Regions from separate parts of the Homo sapiens genome. Here all the other regions are linked to region 1. Evidence: fine-mapped expression QTL. A gene starts in region 1. Each other region holds a variant in brackets. All regions are shown on one strand. Distances are from middle to middle. Region 1 holds the start of SFXN3 (sideroflexin 3). Region 2 overlaps TLX1NB (TLX1 neighbor). Region 3 overlaps TLX1 (T cell leukemia homeobox 1). Region 4 has its middle 18 kb from the start of LINC01514.

The links. PIP is the estimated chance that this variant, and not a neighbour inherited with it, causes the effect.
Region 2: its variant is the best candidate, but not a certain one, in a credible set for the expression of SFXN3 in nasal epithelium (TOPMed, PIP 0.51).
Region 3: its variant is the best candidate, but not a certain one, in a credible set for the expression of SFXN3 in sigmoid colon (GTEx, PIP 0.66).
Region 4: its variant is the best candidate, but not a certain one, in a credible set for the expression of SFXN3 in lung (GTEx, PIP 0.64).

Annotation. Positions count from the first base shown.
Region 1 is chr10:101,028,778-101,036,249 of GRCh38, forward strand. It overlaps SFXN3 (sideroflexin 3), which reads left to right and starts at 2,457. Exons shown (of 12, transcript NM_030971.6): 1 at 2,457-2,757; 2 at 3,537-3,705; 3 at 5,915-6,078; 4 at 6,720-6,890; 5 at 7,226-7,324. The coding sequence starts at 5,918. It overlaps PDZD7 (PDZ domain containing 7), which reads right to left and starts at 2,352. Exons shown (of 17, transcript NM_001195263.2): 1 at 2,296-2,352; 2 at 1,217-1,607. The coding sequence starts at 1,442. RefSeq lists an enhancer at 2,770-2,979.
Region 2 is chr10:101,093,400-101,100,871 of GRCh38, forward strand. All of the region lies in intron 2 of TLX1NB (TLX1 neighbor), which reads right to left. Among named protein-coding and RNA genes, the nearest start is that of TLX1NB, 34 kb to the right of the region's middle. RefSeq lists an enhancer at 2,121-2,240. The variant T/A (reference allele first, on the strand shown) is at 3,327.
Region 3 is chr10:101,136,915-101,144,386 of GRCh38, forward strand. TLX1 (T cell leukemia homeobox 1) reads left to right here. Exons shown (of 3, transcript NM_005521.4): 3 at 1-875. It also overlaps a transcript of TLX1NB not described here. Among named protein-coding and RNA genes, the nearest start is that of TLX1, 9.4 kb to the left of the region's middle. RefSeq lists an enhancer at 5,568-6,372. The variant G/A (reference allele first, on the strand shown) is at 3,784.
Region 4 is chr10:101,154,939-101,162,410 of GRCh38, forward strand. No RefSeq gene overlaps it. Among named protein-coding and RNA genes, the nearest start is that of LINC01514, 18 kb to the right of the region's middle. The variant G/A (reference allele first, on the strand shown) is at 4,105.

The DNA of each region.
Region 1 (7,472 bases):
CTAACTCCTCTGGGGACTTCTGCTCCCTCACCAGAATGACCGTGGTGACCCTCAGCAGTGCCCTGTGCTCACCAGAGGGTGAAGCATAGACTGGTGTATGACAGGGGTGAGCGTGCCAGGGCACTGGTGGAGGAAAGCCTGCTCCCTGAGCAACATGCCCCACCCTGCTCCAGTGGCCTAGGGAGGGGAAGAGAGATGCCCTGCTGGGTCAGAGGGGGAGGAGCAGGGCCTGAACAGTCCAGTCTGGGATCCAGCCAGGGGAGCTCTGCTGGCTAAGAAAGAGGAGAGGAGCTGGAGATATTTATCTGGTCCTGCTCACAGAAAGCTCAGACTCAGGGGGCCTGGCTCCGCACCTGGCATTCTAGGTCCTGTCTTGCTCATCAGCTGTTAGTCACCTCACATCTGTCACTACAGCCAGGCTGGCTCCTAAGTGCCCACCTACCATGCTCCATGCTTTTCACTTCCAGCCTTTGTTGGTGACAGCTCACCCCTGCCACCAGCTGTTCTTATTGCTCTGTCCTGCTACACTGTAGATTCCTGGAAGGTGAAGAGGGAGCCTGATTTCTCTCTAGGTCCCTTGTAACACCTCCCCAGGGCTGGTATAGAATTGTGCTCCATGAAGCGGCATTAAGCAACTACATAAGCTTAGGTCTCCCCTTCCCTGATGGAGCTCCCTCTCCACCCTCAACCCTCCTCTTCTGAACATTTGCTGTGCTGCCTTCATTCCCCTCCTTCAGCACGGAAGCCCTGAATTCTGTCTACCCGCTTGGGCACTGACTCCTCGCAGCCCAGCACAGAGCTTGTCACACAATGGACTGGTTGATGGAGGATGTCCTTCTTTATCCTGCCCCATCCCCCAGAAGTACACACAATGGATCTGGAGAAGGGCAGAGCCCATGGGAGAGAGGCCAGTTCAATCCCCTGCCTTGTCCACCAGGGGCTAGCATACCACACGCATGCCTGTCCCTGCTGCCATGGCCTTCTTTCCCTCCTCTGACCCTTCTACGACCCTGGACCCCTGCAGGATTGGCCTGGAGGAGAGGCCAAGGGCAGGTGAGGAAGAGTGTATGGGTTCCCAGGCGGCCTGCCACCTCCCTGTGACTCCCATCTCTTGAATTCCCCCAATCATACTGGCTCTGCCTCCTCCTGCTGAGTTCCCATTGTCCCCTACCCCCACCCTCCCCAACCCAGGCCAGTGGCTGGGTCCCGCCCCTACCTTCGATGGGGGAGTTGATGAGGATGACGCGTCCCATGGGCGATGAGGCTCGGATTCCGCGGGGGGGCCCGTTCAGCAGCCGTTGTTGCTTCCTTAGCAGGTATCGCGTTGCGGTGGAGCCTGAGTCGCTGCCTAGGTGGCCTCGGGAGGAGAGGGAGCTCAGAGAGCCGGAGCTCAGGTCTCCTAGGCCCAGTGGGTCGAAGCCCACTGCGAAACCCTGCGCCATGGCGGCTGGGCTAGGGCGGCACCCTACAGGTCCAGAAGGAATCTGCTAGCTCTGGAGAGGCCAGCCCTGCGTGCTTCGAGCTCCATGAGCCTCTGTGCGGGGCTGGGGTCTCAGTAACGTGAAGGCCCTCGCTTGCGATGCCTCTCAGAAGTGTGAGCTCCAGGCCTGGGCAGGGAGAGCAGGGATGAGGGAGGGGTGTAAATGTTTCCCCTGCTGCCCCCTAAAACTTCCACCCCTCCCCCTGGTTTAAGCATCCTGCCCTCCCATGCCTTAGGCCCCCCTCCTGTCTCACCCTAGGCCAGAGAACTGCCCCGTCCAGGCACCATCTTGGACTCTCGCTGACTTTATACAAGGCAGGTGGGAACCTTTCACCCCTCATTCCTGCTCGGGGCTGAGTCATCTACTCCCGTCCCCAGTCCTCAGTAGAGGTTGAGAGTGGAGTTGGGATTACTGCGGGCCCTGGGGCTTAGAGAGGTGTGAGACAAAAGAGAGGTCAGGACAGCTCATGGCATCACCTCTCTCATGCATATGCGGGCATGGAGGTGGCCCGGGGTGGGGCGGGGGCTGCGTGGGGCGGGCTGGGCCTCGAGGATAGGGCTTCAGGACCTTAGACAGCTGAGGCCCAGGAAGACCCCCAGACACCCGCGGGCTCCAGGCTGCGGCTCCGGGTCTAAAGAGGCTGCATGAACCTCTCCCAAGCTTTGGGGAGGATCTGCTGGAGAGGGGTCCCACGACATCCCGCGCAAAACCCAGGGCCAGTTCCCTCAGAGAAGCTCTGGGACCTAGAATGAAGCACCCCAACATCAACTCGGCCCTCCAGGCCCCCCACCCCTTTGTGCCTGGTCGGCCTCACCTGGTCGCTGGTGTGGCGCCGCCAGCCTTGTCAAACCACCCGCAGGCGAGAGCTACTGCCGCAGCCGGCAAACCCCACCCACGCTGCGCGGAGGCTGCGGGAATTGGGCTGGCCTGCACCGCCCCGGGCTCCCATTGGCTGGTAGGGCCGCCAGTCATTCTATTCCGGCACCTCCCTTAGGCGCCAGGGACAGCCGAGCGTTACCTGGTCCCGGGCAGCGGAGTTCTTTACCCACCCCAGTTCTGGTTCTGACGCCCTAGCTCATTCCGCAAATTTAGGGCTTGGGTCTGGCTTGTTCCCCTCCGGCTCGAACCACCTCTTCTCTGAGCCGAGCCAGCTACCGGGGCTCCTGGAATTGCCACCCCTCCCTGGGCACCCTTGAGGCCTCCGTGGAGGGACGTCACGGGGCAGAGCGGGACGTGAGCCTGAGTTTGCTGCAGGCGTGCTCTGTGTGGTGGCTGGGTGAGTTGTGAGTATGTGCGTGGCGGAGGGGGTGCCTTCTTCACTTGCATCCTCCTCCTCTGTCAGAAGGCGTCTCTGGCTACCCAGTTCTGGAATGGTCGCAGGGTGGGGCAGCTGGTCCCAGGACCGGAAGAATCCTAAGAATCCTTCTGATGCACTTGCTCGGATGCAGACCGCGAGGTTCCTGGGGTCGTCTGCCCCTCCACATCTCAGGGGTGGGGCTACGGTCTGGGGTGCAGGGCTAGGGGTTGGGAGCGTAAGGAGACCAGGGACACAGTGGAGCTAGGGGTTACAGAGGGGGAGCAGGGAGAGGGCTGGGGACATAGAAGAGGCACAGGCACGACAGGAACGGGGCTGTGAAGTGATGCGAATGCCGCGCTGCTACAAGAGGAGCTTGTGGATACTGGGGTAGGAGCCCAGGGGGACAAGCAAGCCAAAGGCCATTGCCAAGGCAGCCATCAAGTAAACAAGCCAGGCGGTAACCCGAGTCCCTCCCGGCGCGCCAGCAGAGGACCGCCCCTCCACACCGCCCACCTGCGCCCGGGGCTTTCTCTCTGGGCACCTAGACCGCTTGCTGCAGGGCTGGGGGTCTGCTGAGGCCCGCCAGGGGACTGTAAACCAAGGGAGCAGCGCCCGCGGCTCCAGCCCCTCCTCCCTTTGGCTGGGGAGGGGGCCAGAACTGATCCCCGAGGTGGGATTGGCTCTGGGAAGCAGCTTAGGGCCTGGTCCAGGTGGCCCAGGCTGGGGGCATCGCCTCGAATGACACCCACCGCCCTCAGGTTCTGCCAATCCCCGTGCCCACCGGGTGGGCGCGGCCGGGAAGCTCCTGCCCCTCCCTGCTGGTCGGCGTCACGCGTGACGTCCCGCGTGATGGCTGGGAGGGCCCGGCGGCGACAGCGGAGGCAGAGAGGAAGGCGGTTCTGAGAGCTTCAGAGAGCGATGGAAAGCGTAAGTGCTCGCTCTCCCCGGCGGGCGGGGTTCTGGAATGGGGGTCAGAGAAGGAGGCCTGCCTTGAAACTGTCTGTCCTGGTGCAGTCAATGTCCTCGGCTCTGTGGAGGTCCAAGTCCACAGGGCACAAGGGAGGTTGGGGGGAGGAATGTCAGGGTGGGGCTGTGTGTAGTCACACATTCAAGTGTCTGCAGATGGGCACAGTGTGCGCCTGTAAAGGTGTTTGAAGGCCGGTGTATACAGGACACCTCCACTCTGTCTGTATGTCTGGGCAGGGTGTGCATGATAGTGTCTTTGTGTGTGGGTATGTGAGTGTGAGGGGAGGGCGTCTCTGCCTCTGCGGGAGGAAGTGTGGCTGGAGAGGATTAGTCATTCTGTAGGATTCTGCCCAACTCAGCCAGATGGCTGCACCAGGCTTTCCTCTCTGTGCTGGGTGGAGGGAGCAGCCACTGAATCCTGCTCTTATCCGGAGGCAAGTGGCCCAGAGAGAGGTGGATGAGTGTCTGTGCCAGCCCTGCCTGGCCAGGGACCAGGGAGAGCCTGGGGTCATTCAGTGTGAGTTGGAGAAAAATGGGTCTGTAGAGAGGACTTGTGCGTGCCCACATGCACACACATGGCTGACATCAGAGTCCCCTGATTGAGATCTGGAACAGATAAGCCCTGGGTGGCCAGTAAGGCCTTGCTCTCCTCCAATCAGGGACTGGAGTGTGGGATGTCTTGTGCCATTTTCCAAAACAGCCTTGGGGGTTTGTATCCAGGTCTCAGTGCAGCTGGGGCCTAAAGCTCACCTGAGCATGGGTGTGTAATATATATATTATATATTCTTGTGCATCTGTAGCACACGTGGCTGGGATGTTTGTTGCTGCTTATGTGTCAACCACATATATGTAAATCCTCACTCATGAAAATCTGTACCAGGATAGAGCACAAGGAGATCTGTTTTCCTGTTTCTGGTCTTCCCTTCCCCCTCCTCCAGTGGCTGCAGGTCCCTGGGCTGGGACATTGCCCAGGAAACAGCTCCTCCCCACACCCTTGCTTACCTACCTAGTTGAAGGGGTGGCCTGCCCCTCCACACCTGTGGGTATTTCTAGTAGGGTGGGACAAGAGACTGAGAAAAGAAATAAGACACAGAGACAAAGTATAGAGAAACAACAGTGGGCCCAGGGGACCGGCGTTCAGCATACCAAGGATCTGCACCGGCACCGGTCTCTGAGTTCCCTCAGTTTTTATTGATTATTATTTTCATTATTTCAGCAAAAAGGAATGTAGTAGTAGAGCAGGTTGATAATAAGGAGAAGGTCAGCAAAAAACATGTGAGCAAAAGAATCTATGTCATAATTAGGTTCAAGGGAAGGTACTATGCCTAGATGTGCATGTAAGCCAGATTTATGTTTCTCTCCACCCAAACATCTCAGCGGAGTAAAGAATAACAAGGCAGCATTACTGCAAACATATCTCACCTCCCACCATAGGGCGGTTTTTCTCCTATCTCAGAATTGAACAAATGTGCAATCGCGTTTTATATGGAGACATTCAGTTCCCAGGGGCAAGCAGGAGACAGTGGCCTTCCTCTATCTCAACTGCAAGAGGCTTTCCTCTTTTACTAATCCACCTCAGCACAGACCCTTTATGGGTGTCAAGCTGGGGGACGGTCAGGTCTTTCTCATCCCACGAGGCCATATTTCAGACTATGCATGGGAAGAAACCTTGGACGATACCCCGCTTTCAAGGGCAGAAGTCCCTGTGGCTTTCCGCAGTTAATTGTGCCCCTGGTTTATTGAGACTAGAGAATGGCAATGACTTTTACCAAGTATACTGCTTGTAAACATTTTGTTAACAAGGCACGTCCTGCACATCCCTAGATCCCTTAAACCTTGATTTTATACAACACATGTTTTTGTGAGCTCCAGATTGGGTCAAAGTGCTGGGGCAAAGTGGCTGGGGCAAAGCTACAAATTAACAACATCTCAGCAAAGCAATTGTTTAAAGTACAGGTCTTTTTCAAAATGGAGTCTCTTATGTCTTTCCTTTCTACATAGACACAGTAACAGTCTGATCTCTCTTTCTTTTCCCTACATCTAGTCACCTTGAGCTCTTGAAGGGACTGATGATAAGCTCAGGGGCCAGGGCAGGGGCACCAAAGATTTCCCCTAGCTGGAGCCCTTGGACCCTTGGACTCCCGCTCTGACCCTTATCTCTGTCCTGCAGAAAATGGGTGAATTGCCTTTAGACATCAACATCCAGGAACCTCGCTGGGACCAAAGTACTTTCCTGGGCAGAGCCCGGCACTTTTTCACTGTTACTGATCCTCGAAATCTGCTGCTGTCCGGGGCACAGCTGGAAGCTTCTCGGAACATCGTGCAGAACTACAGGTGACCACCCCTCAATCTGACCCTGTGTGCCAGGATCTCATTTTCTGTGATTAATATAATATGTTTTGTACCTGCCTCCTCAAGCTTGACAGTGACCCTGTCCCTCAATCCCCTCACTCTCTAGCCCCGTCTGTTGGCATCACAGAGCTTTAACCCAAAGGATTTTAGGGCATTTGGGTTGAGAAGATGGCATTGATATTTATGGGAGGGGCTGCTCTATGCATCACAAACCTCTACAGGGATCTATCCCATTGCGGGGTCACCCTCTGCAAGGATAGAGGTGCTCAAAGTGGAGTCCCAGGAAGATAGGAGGGAAATCCCCTTATCTTTGGGAGGAAAAACTCTTGCAATGCTTGCAGCCATTTTTGACCCACTGGAAACCACCATCATCCCTGACCCAGCATTTTGGCAGAAACAGAAGGGTACCCCTCTTTGTGTGGCTATAAGGGAAATAGAAATAGGAGCCTCCACTTCTGGGAAACTTTGGCCCTCTCCCAAAGATAAGGAGCTTCCTTATGCTGAGACTGGGGGCTGAAGTTCCTGGTTCTCTGTCCAGAGTTACCCTGAGCTGGGCAGGTGGGGCCTGTGAGGGCAGATCTGCCCCCTGGCATAGCCTGTCTGCTCCTTGCCAACTTCTGCAGGGCCGGCGTGGTGACCCCAGGGATCACCGAGGACCAGCTGTGGAGGGCCAAGTATGTGTATGACTCCGCCTTCCATCCGGACACAGGGGAGAAGGTGGTCCTGATTGGCCGCATGTCAGCCCAGGTGCCCATGAACATGACCATCACTGGCTGCATGCTCACATTCTACAGGCAGGTCTTGTCCCACGTCCCCTTCTTCAGTGCCCTAAGCTAGAGCATAGCTTGACTAGGTGCGCTTCTTGTCTGGGCCAACTGGGTGAGTGAAAGATTGTGTCAGAATCGCTTCCATTCCTCAGAATTCAGCCTCAGGAGGTCTCTCACCCCAGAGACAGTAGGTGTGTTTGTATAAATGGGGGTGGGGGTACATAGGGGTTACCAGAACAGGTTCTAGGGCCATTAACTGGGTCCCTTCTTAGGCTTGGGGAATAACCTTTGGTTTCATTACAGGGGTCTAAAGATGAGGGCCACTGTAGACGGGGCAGAAGTGAGTGTCTTTGTTCCCTCAGGAAGACCCCAACCGTGGTGTTCTGGCAGTGGGTGAATCAGTCCTTCAATGCCATTGTTAACTACTCCAACCGCAGTGGTGACACTCCCATCACTGTGAGGTGAGAGCCAGCCCCCAGCAGCAGCTGCACTGTCCCATCTGACCCTCTCCTCCCAGCCTGCAGTGCCCTCTCCTTTCTCTCCGGTTCCCTGTGGACCATGCAGCCAGTGCTCAGCGCCCTCTCCTCAGCCTGCCCCACCCCGAATTAC
Region 2 (7,472 bases), 65 kb after region 1:
ATCCCCCTGGAGCCCTGTCTGGGAGGCTTTGGACGGTATTAGAGGTGAGCCGGGTGGCAGGCCCTGGAGCCAGGCCCAGCTTTTAGAGCATTCCTGAGCATTAGGCTCCCTGTCCCAGCCCAGCCTTGCCCTCACCCCATGGAGCCCCTGGGGCTTCTCTGCTTCAGCTGCTGCTGGCCTAATTACAGGTGTCCATGTCAGGGTCAGCAGTGGAGTTAATTCGGGGCTTGTCTTGGGGTGGCCGGGGCTCATTAATGGAGTCCCAAAGAGCCTAGGGATGAGCCAGGCAAACAGGGGATTAGGGGCTGAGGAAGACTGCTGTGGGGGAAGGCTGGCTAGGCAGGGCTGTGAGCTGGGCCCCGGGGAGGGGGTCAGCTTCAAGCCTGTGTGTTCACCCACCCACCCACACAGGCCCTCATGAGACCCAGCAGTGCTCAGACACGCAGACACACACAGCCACGGGCCAGACACTCTTCAGAGACACATATGGACTCTCATACACAGGCTCACACACACAGACACACACCATTGGACTTAGAACTGCTCCCTGAGAAGCCTTGAGGTGTGCAGGAGGGGTGGGGGAGATGAACCAGAGATTTCCCTCTTCAGCCAGAAACTCTGGCCTGCCCCTGCCAGCCCCCTCCTGTGCCCTCTCCCACCCTGGCCAGGGCATTGAGCTTCCCTTCTCCCTTTCCTTCAGCATGTCCTCCCACCATGGACTGGAATTCCGAAGCACTGGTCTGTGGGTAGAATGAAAGAGCCGGCTCCCAGCCAGGATGCAGGGAGGCGGGGGTGGTTTCTCCACACCCCTCAGTCCAGCCTGGCCTAGAGGGTCCCTGAGCCCAGCTGTCAGCCCACCTCCCCCATACCAACCCTGTGCCTCATGACAGCCCTGGGGTTCTGTGGGGAGGCAGAGCCACACTGCACAGAGGTCACCAAAGAGAAGGAGGAGGAGGAAGACAAGAAAGGAGCTGACAGGAGCCAGGGTTGGGGCGGGGGCTGGGCAGGGGGAAATCGCTTAACCCCGAAGCCGCCACTAGTCTTTGGAGCCCCTGCATTGACGGGGGCCAGCTGGAGCTGGCTGAGGACAAGGGGCCCAAGTGTGGGAATCCAGGGAGGAGGCCTCCCCGGGCTTCCTGGATCAGCTGGGAAGAGAGACCCCAGAGCCTTCTTCTCCAGCCCGCCCTCCTGCCGCCATCCCTCCCTAGAGTGTGGAGACAGGCCCCGGCTCCCTGGCTCTGTTGCCAGTGGGGGAATTTTTCCAGCATTGACCTCACCCCGACCCCACCCCAGGCTGGCTGGCTGATGTTCCTGCACTCCTAGCAGCGTGGCCATGGCAGCACAGGGCAGGCAGGGGATTCAGAAACCCAACCCTTGACTCTGGAAGAGTCAGGTTTTCCCAAGGATACCTCCTTCCACCTGTGCCCACTTACCAAGGCACCTCCTTGACTAGTATTTAGAAGTGACCCCAGGGATAAAGTGACTCCCATTACAGAAACAGCCACTGCTCCATCCCACTAACTTCACCTGCTCATCAGTAAAGGTGCCCACGGGTCAGACTGCCACCTGTCATCACCTCACTCTTGGTCCTAGGCATCAAGCCTTCCCTTCTGGGCCCCCAGTGTCCCCCATGCCATCCCAGGACCCCACACACACTCCAGGCCCATAATTGAATATAAAGGCCCAGAAGCTAGTGCAAACAGTGGCATTAATCACCAGCAACCTGGCAGCCTCCTGCCATAGATCTTTTCCACGCGTAGAATAGCTCATGTTAATCACTGCCGCTGATTTATTGTCTTCTCCGCCTTGTACATAAATTATTCACTGTGGCTGGGCTGCGAAGGAATCCTGTAATGAGGCCTTCCATCCTCCCATCTCCAAGGTGAATCCTCAGACCTCCGGGTCCACCTAGTTGTGTTCACTGGTGGGTCAAGGCATGGAGCCACAGGCATGGGATTGAGAGGATGATAGGGAGTGGGGACCCCCATGCAAGAATATCTGTCCCCCCAGGAGCATATATAGGACCTCTTCAGCTCCAGGAAACAGGGCTGCGGCCTCGCCTCTCCAGCTCTGGACAGGAGAGACAGGGCAGAATGGGGCGGAGGAGGCTGTTGGGTGGCCCCAGGGCTTCCTAAGGCTCCGGGAGAGTAAAGCCTTCCAGCCTTTACCTGGAAGTTCCTGCTCACCACCTGAGAGACTCTCCCGCCAATCAAGGCCAACTCTTGGGAGTTCCCCATCACCGGAAGCAGGATGTGGGCGTGTCCACGGGGGCAGAAGACCTGCCTCTCCCAGCTCCCTGTCCTACCCTGGGGTCTGTGCTGCTCTCTGGCCACACCTCTGAAATGGCCTCAGCCTCAGGAAAAGGTGGTGGCAGTAGTTATGGCAATGGCCACCAGATGGCAGCCCTGATACCCAGGACAGTAGCTCAGGGAGGTGGGAGGCTGCATTTGGGTAAGGAAATGCCTTTGGGAAGGTGGGAATCCGCCAGCGGAGGGTGATGGGGAGTGGGTGGAGAGGGGGTCTTGCTGACAGGGAGAGCTCTTAGCCTCAGGGGACCAAAGTACAGGACCCACTTCACACATCAAACCACTCATGGTGACATCCTCAAATGGGATGGTCTCAGGAGAGGAAATTGGGGCCCAGGTGTATGTGGGCAAGTGGGACCCCAGAGGGTGTGGGTGCTGCCAGATGGACTTCCCTGGCCCTGGCCCAACACCCCTGCAGCCTGACTTTCAGGCTGTCCTTCCCAGGCTCTGATCCATTGCATCCCAACCCCTCTCTCTTGGCTGGGGCACTCTCGGAGGCAGCCAAGACAGGAGCTACTGTGTACTGTGGTCAGCTGGGGGCCAGCAAGCCCCGCCCTCAGGATCTGTTTCACTGCACACATGCAGCACTGTGAGTTGCTTAGACCCAGTCCATCAAGAACACCTGTCCCCGCACAGGCCCACTGTCTCCTCCCACTCCTGTATGTAGAGTGGAGAGCTGCTCAGAGATACAAATGGGTCCTAAGATTCAGGAGACTTGTGGCTGCAACACTGGGCTTGCCAGAGTGCCCCTCCAGCCCTTCACCCCTCCACAACCCCCTCCCCACACACCTTACATCACCTACTGAGGCAGGGCGGAGCCTGCACTGGGATGGTGTAGAGGATGCAGAGTATTTGCCTTGTTACCCAGCCAGTGAGCTGCTTTCCAGCAAAGATGCGGGCTCCGGTCCTTTAAATACCTTGAGCCTAGAGGGCAAAGCTGGCAGAACAAGGCTCTGAAGGCCTCCTTTTGCCCCAGCTGCCTAGATGGGAGTCCTAGGAAAACATCTGGAACTCTGTGTC[T/A]CCTTGGCAGTTCTTGCCTAGGTGTCCTTGCTGTACATCCCACCGCTAAGCTCTCTGGAGATATCCGCTGGGATTCTGGAGTGCCCCTCCCAGACCCCAACAGGCCCTCTGGGTTCTGATGGGAACTCCCAACCCCAGGCAGGGCCCTATCTCCTGAAGGCAAGGTCAAGACATTCCCATCAATGAAGACCAGTGTTTCCCCAAGTGCAAGTCCTGTGCCTACTTCAGACCTACTGAGCTGGAAACTGTGGGGAAGAGGTCCAGATAACTGAATTGTTACCAAGCTTCCTAAAGCCTGAGAACCTCTGTACGAGACACTTCCTTAGAGCCAGGCTCATGCCCTCGTTAGATCAGCTTCCTGAGGGCAGCCCCAGACCAGGATGGGTGAGTTGTGAGGTTTTTCTAGTTGGCCTCCGAGTATTGACTTCCCTGCCACCACCGCCCTGGAAGTGGGCACACCTTTGGCCTCCTCACTGTCCTCCTGCCTGGTCCCCTTCCCTTCCCGCCAGCCCTCTGGCCCTTCCCAGCCAGCTTGCCTGGCTTCCTGGACCTGCTGTCTTCATGTCTGTCTTCACATCTGTTCCAAGGCTGCCCCAGCCCCGCTTGTTTATCCTTCAGGGGGTCCAAGTGGGTGTTTCAACTTCAATTATGCTCTGACTACAGCCACCACAGATACCAAAACAAACGTCCTGGGCGTCAGAGGTGGTGGAGGCTCAGACAGGCTGGTGCCAGGGGGCCTGATAAAGGGGGGTCTGCTTGGGCTTGGAGGTGATGAGAGCTGCTCCTAGTGATAGGGCCCTGGGGAGCAGGGGCTCGTGGGTAACTGGCCTCCTCAGGTAGGCCCAGGCCACAGAGGGGACAGTGTCTTGGTCTTAGTACCTCTCTCTCTGTCTCCCAGCTTCTCTCCAGTCTCATGTAACAGAAGCCTTTTTTTTTTTTTTCAGTGGGGACGTGACTTGTAAAAGCCTTCCTTCTTCCCAGCTGCTGGCTAAGTCTGGCCTCACCTCCAGAGGACAAAGATCTTGACTCCTCAACCCAGGCCGGCCTATTGAGATCTTTTTAAATCCCCTCTCAGACCTTGTGGTCAGTGTCTGAGGATGGTAGCAGAAGTCAGGGATCCTGGACCCAGCTCTGTTGGATTGTCCCTGTGACTTGGAGTGTGGTCTTTGCACAAGCTGTGCTTTGGTTTCCCCTCTCTAGGTCAATTAGCAGAACACATTTCCCAGTCTGATTGCCCACAAGGGAGAAAAATTCAAACCTTCCAGGCTCCCTGGAGTCCCTGGAGAATACAACGAGGTGTCTCAGGGAGCAATGGGAAGCAGGACGTGGTGCCTGCTAATGAGTGGGCCCTGATTTCCGTCTGGAGCATCAGAGGATGGAATGCCAGGCATCCATGACTAGAGAGAGGCCCCAGCTCCCATTGATCTCTGTGGCAGGAACCAGGAGACCCAGCAGAGGCCATGCTCAGCAGCCCCTCCAGCTGCGCTTCTCCTTAGTGGGAAGGAGCCCTCTTACTCACTGCACCCTCTCTGAATTCTCCCCCAGTACCTGCTTTTGCCCCTACCCTTGCCTTCTGCTTTTCCCAAATGGCCACCTCAGCTTATCTGCCCATTGGCTGATCTCTGCAATGATCACATCTGGGAACACCTTTAATAACAATGATAACAGGGCCAGGCACGATGGCTCACACCTATAACCCCAGCACTTTGGGAAGCCGAGGCGGGTGGATCACTTGAGTCCAGGAATTCGAGACCAGCTTGGTCAACATGGTGAAACCCCATCTCTATTAAAAATACAAACATTAGCCAGGCATGGTGGCAGGCACCTGTAATCCCAGCTACTCGGGAGGCTGAAGCGGGAGAATCGCTTGAACCCGAGAGGCAGAGGTTGCAGTGAGCTGAGATGGTGCCACTGCATTCTAGCCTGAGTGACAGAGCAAGACTCCATCTCAAAAAATAAAATAAAATAAAAATAATGACAATAGGGCCAGGGGCGGTGACTCACACCTGTAATCCCAGCACTTCAGGAGGCTGAGTGGGGAGGATCACTTGAGCCCAGGCGGTTGAAGCTACAGTGAGCTATGACTGTGCCATGGCACTCCAGCCTGGAAATCAGAATGAGACCTTGTCTCTAATTATATATATATATATATATATATATATATATATATATATATATATATATATATATATATATATATATATAATGATAATAGCAAGGAAAACAAAAAACAGCTCCTATTTATCGAACACTTCCCATGTGATGTGCCAGATGCTTTTGCGATTTGATCTTTCTGTCCTACAAGGCAGACGGATATAACAGCCCCACTTTATAGATGAGGGAGCTGAGAGGTTAAGTAAATGTTCCAAAGCTGCACTAGCTCCACTAGCAAGTGGCAGAACTGGATTCAAACCCAATTAGTTCTGACTTCTGAGCCCAAGGTTTTTGCTCCAGGCTTCGGATGTGCTGTAGAGAGCGGGGTTTACTTTGTGTTGGCTCCATCAGCCCCTTGAAAGCTCAGGGTCATGGCTTCTGTAGGGGGCTCTCTCTCTTTAGTACTCAGGGTTGAAGAGACCCTTGGGCCACTCAGGGGGCCCCAGAGTCCTGCTGGAGACCCAGGGAAGCTGTCTCAGTCCCAAATGAACCTGGTCATGTGTCAGCTCCCTGTCCACACGGCTGAGGGCAAACTTTCTCAGAGCTCAGCTCTGGCTCTGCTGCAGGATGTGAGTTGGGGGGTTCTGGTTCTCTGAGTTCTTGAGGAGGGTCTGGATGAGGGTGGGGTTTCTATTCTGATCTCTGTTCTGGTTCCTCTTACTCATTCAACCCTGGCTGCTGCCCAAACACAGGCAGCCTCTGCCCTGGGGCTGGAGCCACAATGTGGCAGGTGGAGGGATGGGAGGTGGACTATTGGAGCCAGACAGCTGCTTCCTATCCCTGCCATGCACATGCACACACACAGTGAGGAAGGGGCAGGGCACGTGAGCTCTGGAAGGAGGGAGGGCCACCAGGGGCTCATTAGGGTGAGTATGGGCACATTTGTGTCTTTGTGAGTGTGCACGCTGGAGATTGGGAGTGTGCTCGTCTGTGGCTGTGTGTGGGTGTGTGCCTGTGAGGTGGGGTCCAGGCTGAGTATGAGAGTGTAAACATGTGGGTCTTTGAAATAATGAGTATGACAGAGCAGTGCACTAGTGTGACCATGTGGGGTGTGACTGCTTACAAGTGTATGATTGTGTGAGCGCACAAACACGCATGGGAAAGACAGTTGCTGTCTCTTAGAGGAAAAATCCCAGAACTCCAACGGCCAACGTCTGCTCTGCTGTTGACCAGCTCTGTGGCTTTGAGCACATGACTTCTCTGAGTCTACATGTCGCTACCTGCAAATGGGGAGGAAACTGTCTCACAGGGTAATCATGAGGACGAGGTGCAGGTGTGGGTGGAGCACTTTGTCATCTGTCAAATGTAGGTCCCTGGGAAGGTCAATAAGCAATCTCCATCCTCTGCCTCTCTCCCCCACTTGCACCCCCACAACATGCTCAGGCCCCAGCCAAGTGCCAAGCTGGGGTGGGTGGTGTCCCAGAGCTGCAGGCTACATGGCCAGAGGTCCAGGCTCAGGAGGACTGGTTAGGGATGGTGAGAGTGAGCAGGTGTGGTGCCATACCTGTCTACTCCAGCTTCACATGTTTGACCCAAGGCTGCCCTGCCCCACCGGCACCAGCCCATCAGCACTCATTATTCTCCTCTGGATCTGAGGGGATTCTCCTCTATCTCACCCCAGCCCAGCATGCTGTGGCTTCTGCTGCCTCCTCCCTCTGGGGAGGTGAAGGCCCCCCCAGTAGGAGGCTCTCACTTCAGGTTCCCCTTCTGACCTTCTGAAGGCCATTCCCCACTAAGATCCCAGGGTCTTCAGCCCTGTTTCACTTCCATTCCCAGCCTCCCCTGAGCTTCCTCAAATGATTCTGGGGCACCTAGTCCATGCACCTACATTTGGAAATCATCTACTTAGCACAGTGGTTCTCAACCGTGGCTGCACATCAGACAGGAATCACCCAGGGAAGACTTGAAAGATCCTGATGCTGAGGCTGCCCCCAGACCAGAATTTCTGGGTTGGTACTCAGGCATTATTACAGGTTTAGGCACGGAATGGTG
Region 3 (7,472 bases), 110 kb after region 1:
CCTGCCCATTCTGCCCTGTGGGACCCCAGGCCCACTCAGGGGTCACTGAGGCCTGAGACCCAGGACTCCTCCCCACCCTCCTGGCCTCAGACTGCACCCAGGAGGGGAACACTGCCCTCGCACGGCCCCGAAGGGCCCCCACATTTGTGCCGACACTGTTCTCCCTTCGGTGGAAGAGCTCAAGGGACAAGGACACGCGCCCCCCTCCCAGAGGCGTCCCGCACCTGTCTGAACTGTTAAGAAATCTGTTTTTGTTTATTTCATTTTATTTTAATTTTTAACGTGGGATTCAGAGAAAGGCAAGGGAGGTAAGGGAGGAGGAGCTTCTGGGGTCCCCAGGGCTGTCATCTGAATTTGCCCTGGGAAACCCCTTCTCTGTGACCCACTTCTCATCACACACATGGAAACCCATAGGCCCACACACAGGTGGTGTCACTGTCCCTCCTGGTGTCACCCCAGAGCCACACATGGGCATCTATGGGAGAGTGTCAACCAGACAGAGGGTCACAGTGTTTACACTTTGGACCTTACGATCAGGCACAGGTCAGGGGTGACACAGACTCATCCTGAACAGCATGGCACTCCCTCCAGCACAAACACAAGGTCATGGCCACACTGTGACACACTACACCACACACAACAGCCAACAGCTACAACAGCCTCACTTGGTCTGCCAGGCCCCCACCACACATCCCAGCCCAATCCAGGTACGCACAGACAGGTTTTCACATAAATGCAGCCCATTTCTCCAGAACCCATTTGAGGGGTGGGGGGGTGTTAATTTATGCACTTATAAGGTGTTTTCTGTGTAACCATTTTATAAAGTGCTTGTGTAATTTATGTGAAAAAAATAAATAAAAGCCTCCGGATCCGGAGTCAGGGCTGCCTGCTCCTTGCGGACCCTAGCGTCCTTCAGCTACTTGGGTTTGGTGTGTGAGCTGATGCTTCAGGGGCAGCCCTTGGTACCTGAACTTGAGAGACATGTTGCGGGGCAGGACCCTAAGGCTCTGGAGAGAGGAAAGGAAGAGGACAGATGGAGAGAAGGCAGAGTTGAGGAGAGCAGGGAGAGCCAGGCTCTCCTGGGATTACCAGTGCCTGAGAGGATGTGGATTTCTTTGGATGTGAGAGTCGTGTGTGTGTGTGTGTGTGTGTGTGTGTGTGTGGTGTGTTTGTGATAATGTGAGCAATCAGCAATGCGAGCAAATAGTGAATATTTATAATGGTATTTAAGTGTATAATTGTGTTTGCAATTCTTGCGTGTAAATGCTTGTTTCTGCTTAAGTTGCAAATCGAAACTATCATTGTATGCACGGGCTTGTAGTGGTGTGTGTGTAACCGTATGTGAATGTGACTGTTTCTTTTTGGGTAATTGTGTAATCAACCATTGTTTGTGATTATGTATGAATCGTGTTGATGTTTGGGAGAATATGTATTAGTTTCTCTTTGTAAATCTATTTTTCTGTGAAATGTGTGACTGCTTCTGAAGTGGATCATCTTGAATTTTATGGGTGTAATTGTGTGTGAGATGTAATTATGTGTGAGCTGTGCATTTTCCCTGTATTTACTTGTGTGTGACAGAATGTAATTGGGGGAGTAAAGGTAGTGGGGAGTGTGGATCACTGTGGGAGACCATCACTGCAAGTGGGTGGGTATGGTTCTGTATGAGTGTGTGTAATTGTGTGCTGATGGTGTATGTGTTGGTGGGAGTCTGTTGTGCGATACGCAGATACATTGTGGCGGGACCAACATCTGCTGAAGTTCTGGGGCTCTAGACGCTTACCCAGCAAGCTGCAGAGACTGGGGCACATTGAATCAGAAATTAAGGCCAGAATCCTCTCTGGTGCTGTAAGTGGGACCTACCAGTTCCCAGCACTAGCCTGGCCTAGGAGAGATCTAAAGAATTGACTTTCTGGGAACCTCCAGGAGCCCTCCAGACCACCCTTGCCAGACCTGCAGCCACAGTACACATGCACACAGGCATAACAGCCAGTCCCCAGCCTATTCGAATTATCCTAGACAAGACTGACTTGGGTCTGCTTTTCTGGAAGAAGCTGTGTGGTGGAGGGTCTACAGAACTCATCACCCTAGGGGTGAGTTGAAATGGAGGGGTAAGAGGCTTTTTCTCTGGGATGGGAGAGTGAGAGAACTTTTCAGCTGAAAGTGGAAGTTCGTGGTGTGGGGGTCACTGGAAGCTCTGCAGAAGTGTTTGCGGGATACTGAGGGTGGGGAGCCACCCTAACTGTCAGAACCACTGTCCCCCAACCCTGCCCCTGCCCGGCAGCCATGAGGGCTGTGACACAGGTCGTGAGCACAGCAACTTCCCACCCCAGCAAGCCCATGGGGAAGTTCGGCTGAGTGGAGGGTGGGCTTGGTCATCCACCCCCTCATCTGGGGTCCCCTGGGATATCCGCATAAGAGGGGGCTTCTGTCACTCACTTTGTGTAGACATGAAGAAAAGAGAAAAAGAGGGGAGGGTTCAGGGTCCGAAGACAGCAGCCAGCCTTTCCGCCCCATCCCCGCAGGCCCGCGGAGTGCTCAGGTTGGGCCCTGACGAGCTGTGTGGAGCGTAGTGAGCAGGTTCTGGCGGCAGCGCCGGGTCTGCTGCAGGTCTCCCGCATTCACCGGCTGTGGCACCCAGCGCCAGGCCGCGCAAAATCCAGAAATAGCCTCCAGCACCTCAGAAGTCGTCTCCCTCTACCTGGGCAGGTCTGCTGTCCCCTCTGCTCCCGCAGGACTGGAGCCACCGAGCTCGCGCCTTCTTCTCGGGGTGCGATTTCTCTCCTCTTTTGGACTCAAGATCAATGCTTCCCGGCCGGCGCAGATCACACAGCAGGACCCCAGGGGAGACTGTGGCCTTCTTCCCGCCTCCCAATTCCCCAAGACCGCCTCTAGAGGCTGCTGTGTCCGGAGAACTCCGAGCATTTTCTGGACACAGATTGCCTAACAGAGGAACAGGGGTTAGGTGGGGAGCGGCTGGCCGGCCCAAACACAGCAGCCCCAAGCTGGCTCCCAAGCCTGGGCTCTCCACCCCCGCTCCCATCCTCTCTTGAGCACAGTTAGGCCCAACACCCCTGTCCCCCAAAACACCTCCTACCCTCCCTCCCCCCCAGCCCCCATCTTCAGGAACATCACAGGGCTCACACTCACTAACCGCGGAGAGCACATGCAGGCCGGAGCCCTCAGCCCGGCAGCTCTCGGACCCTGCCCAGCTCGACGCGGACTCATGCAGAAGAGGACATTCCGCAGGTAGGTACAATCCCAGCGCTGGGGCCTGGGGCGTCCGGGGGGCGGCCTTTGAGCTTCCCGGATACCGCTCGCCTGCTCCCGGAGCTGTTCGGCCGCCGGCTGCCCGGGTCGTGCACTTTCAGTAGGGCCCCGCTGACTCTCCTGCCCTTGGGCTAGGCCTCCCGGGGATGCCAGACTCCTGGGGACGCTGGGACCCGCGGCGCGGCGGGACACGCAGGACTCCCGCCTCTCCGCCCGGAATTCGTTGAGACGGAATCTCAGCGGATCCCGCGTCCGCCGAGCGCCGCGGCCAGGGAGAAAGGCCGGTGTGGCGGCTGGACCCGCAAACTCCGTCCCAAGTGGGGCGGAGGCTGGAGGGGAGGGGGGCTGCGAGGGTCACAGTCAAGGCCAACTACTCACAACAGAAAGCTCGAAACTCTCCCTCTACCTCCCCTGCCGGAAATGACCCGTCTCTGTTCAAAAATAGAAAAAGAACGATCGGAATAATTGTTCGCAGAGGTGCCGGGAGAGAAGGGGAATTAACAAACCTGCCTGCGC[G/A]GAGAGGTCTGCTTCCTTCTTTGGCTTCAGAACCGACGGCAATCACCAAATTCCTGCGGCCAGCGAGCCCTGCCCCTCAGATCTGGCCCTCTGGTTGAGTGGGTGGCGGCCTGAGGGGCCCCAGGAACCCAGGCAGGGATGGGGTCCTAGAGGCCCTGTGCAGTGCGGTGGGTGGCACACAGAGAATCTGGCTCAACCTGTTAACTATAATAGCGGCTTTGTGTGGCCGCATCTGTGCTTGGGGGCTGTGTGGCACCTCCTGAGCACTGACTGCCCTGTCGTGGCTCCACTACCAGGCAGTTGTGGGGTTTGCCCTGGGCACAGGACTCAGATGGGTGCCCTGCTTGTGGGGCGAGTGACTCGCAGGTGGGCAAGGTAGGCTTCAGGTGCTTGAGACAACTAAGTAAGGACCTCTAGCCAGCTGAAGCAGCTGGGACTCAGCAGCCAGGCTGCAGGGCAACCGGGAGGCTGCGGCCTTGGGGCTGCCCTGAGGGCCCTTCAGCTCAGGTGCCAGAGGAGACCTCCTCCCTCATGCTTTACTCCTTCTGCTGCCCTCATGCCCACTTTCACACTTATGTGTCACTCCCACACAGCCCCCCAGTCCTGCTCCCTACCAGGGCCCCCAGACCCTCCAGATCAGCTCAGAGTTTGAAGTTCCACAGCCAGGCTGTTGCCAAGCAACTGGCAGGAGCTGCCACCACGTTCCCTGCGTGGCTCAAAAGGGCCCATCCAATGCCTTCTGCCCCCATTCAGCTCTGGCCTGGTTGGCCCAGGGAGGCCCCTCCCACCCCGGAACCCTCACCTGGATGTCTTATCCTGGAGAATCTGATAGGAACAGGCTGAGCAGAGGCTGGAGTCAGGTCAGGTTTTCCAAGGAGCTCAGAGCAGACTCCAAAGACTGTGCATGATAGGGGTGAGGGGTGGCAGGTTGGGGTGTGAGGAAGGGCTGGGTGAGTTCCAGGGAGTGATGGGGTACCTACATTTTGTTGAGGGGTGGGTACAATTCACATGCCCCCACTCACAGCCTGCATTGCTGGGTACAACCTCACATACCTCCTTCAACTATGCAACAATCAGGGTGTGCAGTGTTACACGAGGGGAGCTACAGGTGTGCTGTGCCAGGCACACACAGAGCCTGCACTGCTGGTGCAAGCTCACACCTGACCAGGCCACCTCCTGTAAGTGGTTACCCCTGGACACCCCTCCTCTCCTTCCCTCCTCCCCCAGCCCCTACAGAGGAGGATCTAACTCCATTCCCAGCTGGCCTGGGGGTGGGGGTTGTCTTAGGAGCTGGCTTCAGGTTCCAGCCCTGCAGCTCGGGTGGTAAGGGAACCCCATGTGCCTAAGGCTGAGCTTGGGGATAGCAGCGGCCACCTTAGATACTGGCTGAGGACCCTAGCAAGGCCCAGAAGGTCCAGCGGCCGCCACTGCCTGCCCAAAGCCTGGGGAAATCTGGCCTCCTTGTGTGCGAGAAGATTGTGAGGGGTGCGGGGGGCCCCCTGCCACTGTGTGCCTCCTTGGGGAAAGGCTTTGGTGGGAGCTGCTCCTGCCCCTCCTGTTTTATGCCCTACGGACCCAGAACCCACATTTCTTTGGTTGCTGCGAGAAGAGCCAAAAGACCCAAAAGCTGGAGGCCGCGGCCGTGATTCAGCAGCCACCCAGAAGTGGGAGCTGGACCTGGGACTTGGTCACAGAAACCCAGAACGAGTGAGTTCTGGGCGCCCTCTAGGGGCCGCGCGTAGCAAGGCACTTCGAGCCGAGGCTCTGGGAGCTTGTATTCTCCGTGGCACCCTCGGAAATGCAGGGGTGGCTGTTACTGACTAGGTTGGAAAATACGAATGATAATCACACTAGCGAGCAATGTTATGGAGCATATGCTGGTGCCAGGCACTGCACTATGCTTTAAGAGTACTAATTCATGCCTAGCAACTACCTTATGAGGTAGTGGTATTTTTATCCCTGCTTTATACATAACGAAAATTGAAGTTTAAAGAGACTAAGCAGGGGCCAGGCGCGGTGGCTCACGCCTGTAATCTCAGCAGTTTGGGAGGCAGAGGCGGGCGGATCACTTGAGGTCAGGAGTTCGTGATCAGCCTGGCCAACATGGTGAAACCCCGTTTCTACTAAAAATACAAAAATTAGCCGGAAGTGGCGGCGGGCGCCTGTAATCCCAGGTACTCCAGAGGCTGAGGCAGGAGAATCGCCTGAACCAGGGAGGCGGAGGTTGAGCAGCTTGCCTGAGAGCCCGCGGCTGGTAAACAGTGAGGCCAGCATTCCAACCATGAGGTCTAACTCTAGAGCCACGGTCTTTGAGAGGGATGGCCGAGTCCTGGAGTATCATGGAATTAGTGAGAATTGGAGATGAGACCCTACCAGACTCCTGTCAGATTTGGCTTTATGGAGGGAGCTCTTAGTCTAGAGGGGGGCTGGGTGTTTGTCCTCTAGAGCTCTGGGAAAATCGCCTTCAGTCCCATCCAGTCTACTGGAACCTTCCTCCCCGTGAGGCGCCTGGCTTCCAGGCCCCACTCTGCCAGGCCTCTGTGGCCGCCCCCTCTTCCCCCGCACTGACTGCAAGCGCACACTCTACGTCTTCCCAGCAGGGCTTGAAGCCTTGTGGGATTGGAAGGGGGTTCCGTGCACTTTCACCTCTTCCCCTCCCTTCTCTGGGTCAAGAAAATGGAAGGACTCAAACTGACAGAAAGTTAAAAATAGAAGCCAATGAATCACACTTTATTAGTCAAAGGAACAGAGAACCAGAAAGGAAAATCCTTCCTCTCCTTGTCCATCTGCTCTGTGGATTGGAGGATCGGGGAGTGAGCTGAGGTGGGTAGGAGGGTGAGACTTGAAGGTCAGGGAGTTACCAGAGGTTTTCTTGGTGACCTCTTAGTAAGATTCAATCAAACTATAAAAAGAAAGAGTATGGCAGGCCAGGCGTGGTGGCTCACACTTAGAGTCCCAGCACTTTGGGAGGCCAAGGTGGGAGGATCGCTTGAGCCCAGGAGTTCGAGAACAGCCTGGGCAACATGATGAGACCCCCCCAGCTATATATTTAGGCCGGGCATGGTGGCACACGGCTGTAGTCCTAGCTACTCCGAAGGCTGAGGTGGGAGGATTGCCTGAGCCTGGGAGGTCAAGGCTGCAATGAACTGTGATAATGACAGTACACTCCAGCCTGGGTGACAGAGTGAGACCTTGTCAGAAAGAAAGAAGAACGAAAGAAAAGAAAGAAAGAAGAAAGAAAGAAAGAAAGAAAGAAAGAAAGAAAGAAAGAAAGAAAGAAAAAAGAAAGAAAGAAAGAACCGAGCGGGTGAGCTTGGCCTTGCCTCCTTCCCTCACCTTCTACACGATACGGGAGGTGGGGGTAGGGGAACATCCCTGGAAGGCTCTTTTGTATACTATATAAGGTGTATTCATTTATATACAAATAGCCCCTGCCAGTGTCTTAAACTTTTGTGTGTGCAAAAATCATCCAAGGATCTTGTTAAAATGTGGATTCTCATTCATTAGATCTTGATGGGGCCTGATGAGATGAATCTTGATGAGATTGCACATTTAGAATAATCTTTTGGTAATGTTGACACTGCTTCAGGCATCAAGGTCTTAAACTACTTCCCCACATCTAAGATCTAATCCTAGGGTTTTAAAGTTGCCTGCCAAACATGACTTGTAATCTTGTTTTATTTGCTTAA
Region 4 (7,472 bases), 130 kb after region 1:
ACAGGCGCCCGCCACCACGCCCGGCTAATTCATCATGGAGTTTTATGAGTGCTCTTTTTTTTTTCCTGTTTGCCATTGAAATATGAATGCTTATTTACTTGTCTTCTTCTCCCACTAAACTTCAAGCTTCTGGAGGCCACCCGCCGAGTTATAACCAGCTTTGTCCCAGCGTCTACCTCAGGGCAAAGTCAGAGTGGTTCTTAATCAAGGATTTTTGTGGTGGCTCACGCCTGTAATCTCATCACTTCAGGAGGCTGAGGTGGGAGGATCACTTGAGCTCAGGAGTTCGAGACCAGCCTGGGCCATGTAGCGAGATCCCATCTCTACAAAAAAAATTTTTTTAAATAGCCAAGCATGGTGGCACATGCCTGTAGTCCCAACTACTTGGGAGGCTGAGGTGGGAGGATCACTTGAGCTCAGGAGGTCAAGGCTGCAATGAGCTGTGACTACACCACTGCACTCCAGCCTGGGTGACAGAGTAAGATCCTGTCTCTCAAATAATAATAAATAAATAAATAGTTGTTACTGGGCTCCTTCTATCATCCACAGAGATCAAGGTCATCTTGGGGGGTTAGAAATGTAGGGACATAGCCCTCCTCACATTATTTGGTCATCAGGACACCAGGAGACAAGACTTGGAAAAAACCTGAAGTCTGAGATTCTCCAAAGCTGACTGACATTAAGGGAGATCCTCTGAGCTAAAATGAGCCAAGACTCTCTCCACTGGGACCTGTTGGATGAGGAAAGGAATGTTGACAAGTAAAGTGAGGGACAAGGATAATAATGACCCCAAGCCCACCAGCCTGGCCTTGGCATTTCAGGGGCAGGCAGTGAGAATTACTGAACACTAGTTTTACCTGGAAAACAAGGTCACATTAAAAAAATTATATAGAGAGAAATTTTTTGTTTTCCAACTGCTCCCTGCAGAGCAAGGCTACCCTATAGGCAGTGTGCCCAGAGTTGCCACACGGTCATATTTGGGCCAAAACAGGTAAGACACCTCTACGGTAGATGGGGTAGGGAAGCTCCTTCCTCTTGAGACAGTCAGGCTGGGGCTGGGGAAGATGGGGGTGGTGGTGGGTGTGGCTAGCTGGGCTGAGTTGATGGAATTCTGGAAAGGAGGATAGATAGAACCTCCACTATTGCTTGGAATGTGCAGGAAATACCGTGAATTGGTCCACTCAGCATTCATCCAACCTTCTTCTGGTATGCATTCCTGTACTGCAGGGGCTAGAAAGCTAAAAATTACATTCCCCAGACTTCCTTGCAGCTAGAGTGCCAGATGTGACTTTTAGGTTGCACTCATAAGACATATTTATGCAAGGCTTAGATTCAGGGCTCAGTTAACTGGAGAGAGGAGTACAGCACGAAGCATCATTTAATACATGGTAACATACCCCTTCCTGTCTAGCTACATGGTCTCTGCTGCCTTCACTGAAACCCTCACTGATACATGGGGTAGCTCCTTAGCCACCTCCTCCTCCTTTCATGGGGTATTTTCCAGGTTTGTCTGCAGTGGCTTCTTTTTGCTGCTCTTGAGTGTGGAAGTTCCCTCCTCTATGGGGAGAGCTCTGGGAAGCCTCAATTTGGTTTTTGTCTGGCTCAGCCACCCTCACGACTCCCACATCTGTGTTCACCTTCATTCCTGCCATGTTCCATCCAAGCTGTGGACATCTGGTCACAGAGACTTCCTTGACTGAGGGATGCCCTGTCCTTGCAAGTCTGGGTCCACGTGGGGAGTTGTGACGGAAGTACTGTATTTTTGCTAAGTTCTTTTTTTTGGTACAGATGGGGTCTTGCTACATTGCCCAGGCTGCTCTTCAACACCTGGCCTCAAGGGATCCTCTTACCTTGGCCTCCCAAAGTGATGGGATTACAGGCATGAGCCACCACACTCAGTCCTATTTTTGCTAAGTTCTGAGAGTCAGTATGGTGGGTGGAAGTCAGGCCGACTTCACTCAGCTGGCCTGGGTCCACTCCTAACTCTTCTGCCTAGTGACTGTCTGGCCTTGGACAAGTGACTTGCCTTTCTGTGCCTCAGTTTCCTCATCAGTAAAATAGTGACCGTAAATAATAATAACATAATGATAGAATTATATAAATATGTAATAATAATAATAAAACGGTGCAGATTGTTGTAAAAGTTGGTATTGCATGTAGGTTCTTGCTATCAGGGTAGCCACAGACTTCGATGGGTCTGGTGAGGGAATGTCTCAGGATTTTCCCCCGTTTCTGTTCCTGGGGTCTGACCGGAGGATCCCCAGGCCTCCCAAGTAGTGAATTATCCTCCTTACCCCCTCATTTCTACACTCTCAGATTTTCCTTGTCTGGAACATTTTAAGCAAACTGATGCTTTGACAAATACTTCCTGAATGCCTACTACGTGCCAGGCATTGTACTGAGTACCAAGGATGCAATTCAAATTAATAAAATCAAGCTTTTGTCCACCTGCCAGCCACCATATTACACGAAGATGCTGGAAGGGTTTCATGGATTTGGACGGTATGATGGTGTAACCGAAAACAGTTATATGACATGAATAAAACTCATTTTGGGGGATCCCTGGGGAGATACCTTAAAGAGATGGGAAGTCATCCTCCAGAGTGACCCAAACTGACATACGACAGGTCTGTATGTCCACCCATGGGGCATGTTATGTCTCACCTACAGAGGGGCAGTAGATAGAGAAAGCAACAGTGGCTTAAAATGCAAACCCCAAACCAAAAGTTGTAAGGGAAGCTGCGCTGCTTTGCAGGTGCTGATTTGCTATCTAGCAGCTTTTCAAGGGAACTTCTATGTGTGGAGCTCCAGGGTGATTGACACCAGGATTAGGGTTCTGGTGAAGGCCACTAGTGATGAATAAGATTTGGTCTTCCAAGAATTCGGGAAAGGAACACCCTTCCATTATCTCCTGCTGCATAGCAAATCACTCTAAAAGTTAGCAGCTTAAAACAACAAACATTTATTTTCTCACAGTGTCTGTGAGTCAGGAATCTTGGGGCCGCCTAGCTGGGTGTCTCTGCCTCCAGATCTCTCAAGGATATGATCAAGGTTTCAACTGGGACTGCAGTTTCATCTAAGGCTTGACTAAGGAAGCATCTACTTCCAAGTTCATTTACATGGTTGCTAGCAGGATTCAGTTTCTCAGTTTCTCACTGGCCGTGAGCTGGTGGCCTCACCCAGTTCCTTGCCATGTGAATCTCCCAATAGGGCAGCTCACAACATGGCAAATGCTTCAGAGCATGTACTCAAGAGAGGCTGAGAAAACAAGCAAGATAGAAGTCCTGTCTTTAAGTCACCTAATCTCCAAAGTCACATCTTATCACTTCTGCCATTCATTCTCAGCAAGTCTCTGGGTACAGCCCACGCTCGAGTGGAGGAGATTTCACAAGGGCTTGGGAATTCCACAGCAACCAGGGGTCACGGGGGGTCATCTCAGAGACTGCCTACCACACCCCTCACCTATGGGAGCCCCAGCAGCAGGGGCAACTCCTTCCTTTCCCCATCTCCACCCCCACTTTCTCCCCTAGGACTCTGCCCAGGCAAGCCACAGCCTGGCTGCCTTTCCCGAGTGAGGATCCAGGACAGCCTCAGAAGCACATTAGTCTCAGAAGACAGAGACCCAGAACTCAGAAGCCCCGCCTCATGGAATGCATAGATGTACTGGGTCTGGCCATTGTCCTTAGCTAACAGACATGCTAGGTATGGAGGAGAACCTGGGGCCAGACTAGAGCCTGGGGACATTGTCTGTCTTAGTGAGGAAGGAGACAGGACTCAACTCTGGAGGCAGGGCTTGGACACTGGACCAAATTGAGGACTAGCTAAAACAGGGTCAGGGCAGAAGCACCTTTCCATAAGACACACCCACCAGTGTTGCCATGGCAACACCCAGAAGTTACCACCTCTTTCTGTAGCAACCACCCAGTGACCCAGAAGTTAACATTCTTTTTCTAGAAATTTCTGCAGAACTCACCACTTAATTTGCATATAGTTAAAAGCGGGGACAAATATGACTGCAGAGCTGCCTCTGAGCTGCCACTCTGGGCACACTGCCTATGGGGTAGCCATGGTCTGCAAGGGGCAGTACCTCTCCTGCTGCTGTAC[G/A]TTGCCATCTCAATAACAGTTGCTGTCTAATGCTATCTAACACTACTGGCTCACCCTTGAATTCTTTGCTCTGCAAAGCCAAGAACCCTCCTAGGCTAAGCCCCAAGTTTGGGGTTCACATGCCTTGCATCACTAGGGCTGGTCAGTGGGACAAGGCCACACCAGACCATAAATCCAACTCACGGTCTTTCCCAAATGGGCAGAGGCTGCAGGGTTGGCCCTCCTGAAGGGCTGGCCCTGCCCCACTTGGCTGAGTTTAAGACCCCCTTGCCTTGGTGCTGGTAAGAGCATCACTGTCTTACTTGCAAAGAGGAGGGTGTCTGGGAACTTCCAGAGGCCTGTGGAGCTGGAAAATACTAACAGAATGGTCTTGGTAATTTTCTCTGGAGGTAGCCTCATCACATTTTGGTGGACCCATTTCTCCATCTGTATTCCTCCCTTCATTTTTGTTTTTGTTTTTCAGATTCTCATTTCTCTGACTCCTCTTGATTTTACACTCTAAAGCTGAGGGCACAGGGTACCCCCCAAATTGGGCCTCCACTCTCTAGTCAGGGATGGTGGGATTTGGGTGGACTTTTCACCTCTGCTTTCAAGATCTTAGGTAAAGGGGGGGTCTTGAGGCCAGCAGAGGCAGGCAACCTGGGCCTTCCCACACTGCACCCACAGAGATCCACAGAATGCACCCCCCCATGCTGCACCTGTTGCTAGCATCTCTGAACGGGCCTTCCAGAAGCTACCCAAGAGGACGCTGACAGGACAGAAGATGGCTGCACAGAGCAAGAGACGGGGAGGGCACAGGGCAGTATGAAGAACAGCGTGGTCTATGTGAGTCCCAGCACCCAAGGTCAGAGCCCTTCCCTGGGCCCACTCTCCATCTCTGCCAAGTGCACACTCCTGCAGGGAGGGGCTGTGCTATTCATCTCTGTGTCCTCAGAGCCTGCATCTACGAATGGGCAAAAAAATGAGCAAACCAACAAGGTTTAGCACATACGAGGCTTTGGTCCAGATATACATGCATGTGTGTCAAAGGACCTGTGTAAAAACATATTCATTTGGAGCATTCGTTGTAAAGATTAGAAACAACTTAATATTTATAAAGATATTTGCCAAGATTGGAAACAATTTAAATGTCTATGAGTAGAGGACTGGGAAAATTCATGAAGATAAATCCATCAGTGTGATCGTGTGCAGCCATGAAAAGGATGAGTCCACACTGATGTGAACAAACTCTGAGATACTGTTGATGTGCTGGCAATGTGGCTCATGCCTGTGTTGATGCTTCCAACACTTTGGGAGGCTGAGGCAGGAGGATAGCTTGAGCCCAGGAGTTCAAGACCAGCCTGGGCAACTTGGTAAACCACTGTCTCTACAAAAAATACAAAAACTAAATGGGCATGGTGGTGCACACCTGTAATCCCAGCTACTCAGGAGGTTGAGGTGGGAGGATCACCTGAGCCCGGGAGTTGTCGAGGCTGAAGTGAGCTGTGATTGTGCCTCTGCACTCCTGCCTGGGCAACAGAGTGAGGCTCTGTCTCGAAAAAAAAAAAAAAAAAAAAAAAAGAATGAGATGCAGAACAGGGTGTGTTGGTATGTTGGTGGGGGGAGAATATGTATGTCTGTTTGTATAGAATATCTCTGCAGGGACACCCAAGAAAATGACGGCATTTTCTGGGAGGAAAATAGGGTGCCTAAGAGAGGGGGTGGAAGGAAGGCTTACTCATTACTGTTTTGAATGGCTTGAATTTTGAATTGCATGAATATATTATTTATTCAAAAAAGCTTAAGAGCACACATTTGGAACTGCAGACTTGGACTGCCATCCCAGCCCTGCCACATCCATCTTCCTCTGTAACGATGACTGCTGGACGTCTTCCCAGCGCCCTGAGAGGATGCAGAAGTTGCTTCTGTAGCACTTGGGGAGCTGGAGTTTTGTTGGTACTGCTGCCATCTCCACCAGATGATGAATGGGGAGAAACCTCTGGCTGGGAGAGGCCAAGGTCACTCATTAAAACCTCACAGAAGGTAACACACTGAGAGACAGACAGTGTGACCCCTGACCCCACTGACGTTGGCCCCAAGTCAGCCAGCAGGTTCACACACCCTCTCAGGGTTCACTTGCTGGGTGATGTTATCCAATGGACCCTCTTTCCTGACTTCAGTGACCACACCCAAGACCTGCAGGGACTCCAGACAGTTATGTCATAAAATTCACCACACAGGGCACAGAATTCCCCCATGTTTCCACTCTCTCTATATCTTACCAGTAAGGGAAGGGCAGAAATATGAAGGAATATAACCTGTAGTCATTTGGTATTTTCCAAGGGAAACTGCTTGTGATTGTGAGGTTAGTGATCTTTGCAGACATTCTCTCTAAAGTGAGTGTAGCCTTGGGCAATGCATGCTCTGGGCTATTCATTTAGGTGCCCCTGTAACCAAGCTCTGCATGCAGGAATGCTCTCTCATTCATCATTTATTCATTTGACAAACATTCATTCAGCCCCTTCTCTCTGCTAGGTATGTAAAGGAGAGCCAAGCTGCCTGAAGAAACGAGGGTCCATAGGTGAAGACAATTAAATAAACTCATCAGACTAAAGTGCAACACGTGCTGGAGAGACAGCCAACCTTTGTAGAAGTGCAAAGCACTTGACCCAGGGGCTGGGGTCAGCGGGACGTCTGGGAGGAAGTAAGCTAGCTTCAGCTAGCACCTGACAGTGGAGAGTGGAAGGCAAGCGCCGGTGAAAAGGAGCTGTTGTGAAGGTGGGATGTAAATGGCTTAGCCAGGGCCCAACACATTGTGTGTGCTCCATCGGTTCCCAGTGTTCAGAGGAAGGAATTCCCCCAGATGCCTGAGTTCAGGGCTGCTATCACCCTGAATGGCCACAAGGGGGAGCTCGTGCCCTGTAATTGTGTGTTTCAGCGCCTGTGCCGTGTGCCGCAAGGTACCAGTTGTTTCCACTAAAGATCGGTTACTTGCATCTTACAAAGTTGTTAGGAAGCGTCTCCCGGACATTTGCAGCCCCTGCTAAGCGTAGTGTGTTCCAGAGCCTAAGTGGCTCTGATAGCCTTGTCCTAGTGTTTTCTCGTAAAGCCGAGGATTCTTTCCTCTAAATTCTCGGGAATAGAGCCAATTACCCAAGTAGCCACCGATCATGTCCTTTTAATCCTTCCTGGTTCTTCCCATTCCTTCTGGGCATCCACAGGGCCCATCCCCTAGAGCAGCACCAATGGGGTTGGAGCACTGGCTACTGACACGTCTGGACCCTCCAGGCCAGAAAGGCTTCATTTCTCTGCACTTGCTAACCCCCAGCCAAGCCCCTAGTCCTTTCCAAGATGGGATAAAGGGGCATTCTCCCTCAAATGTCTTTCCT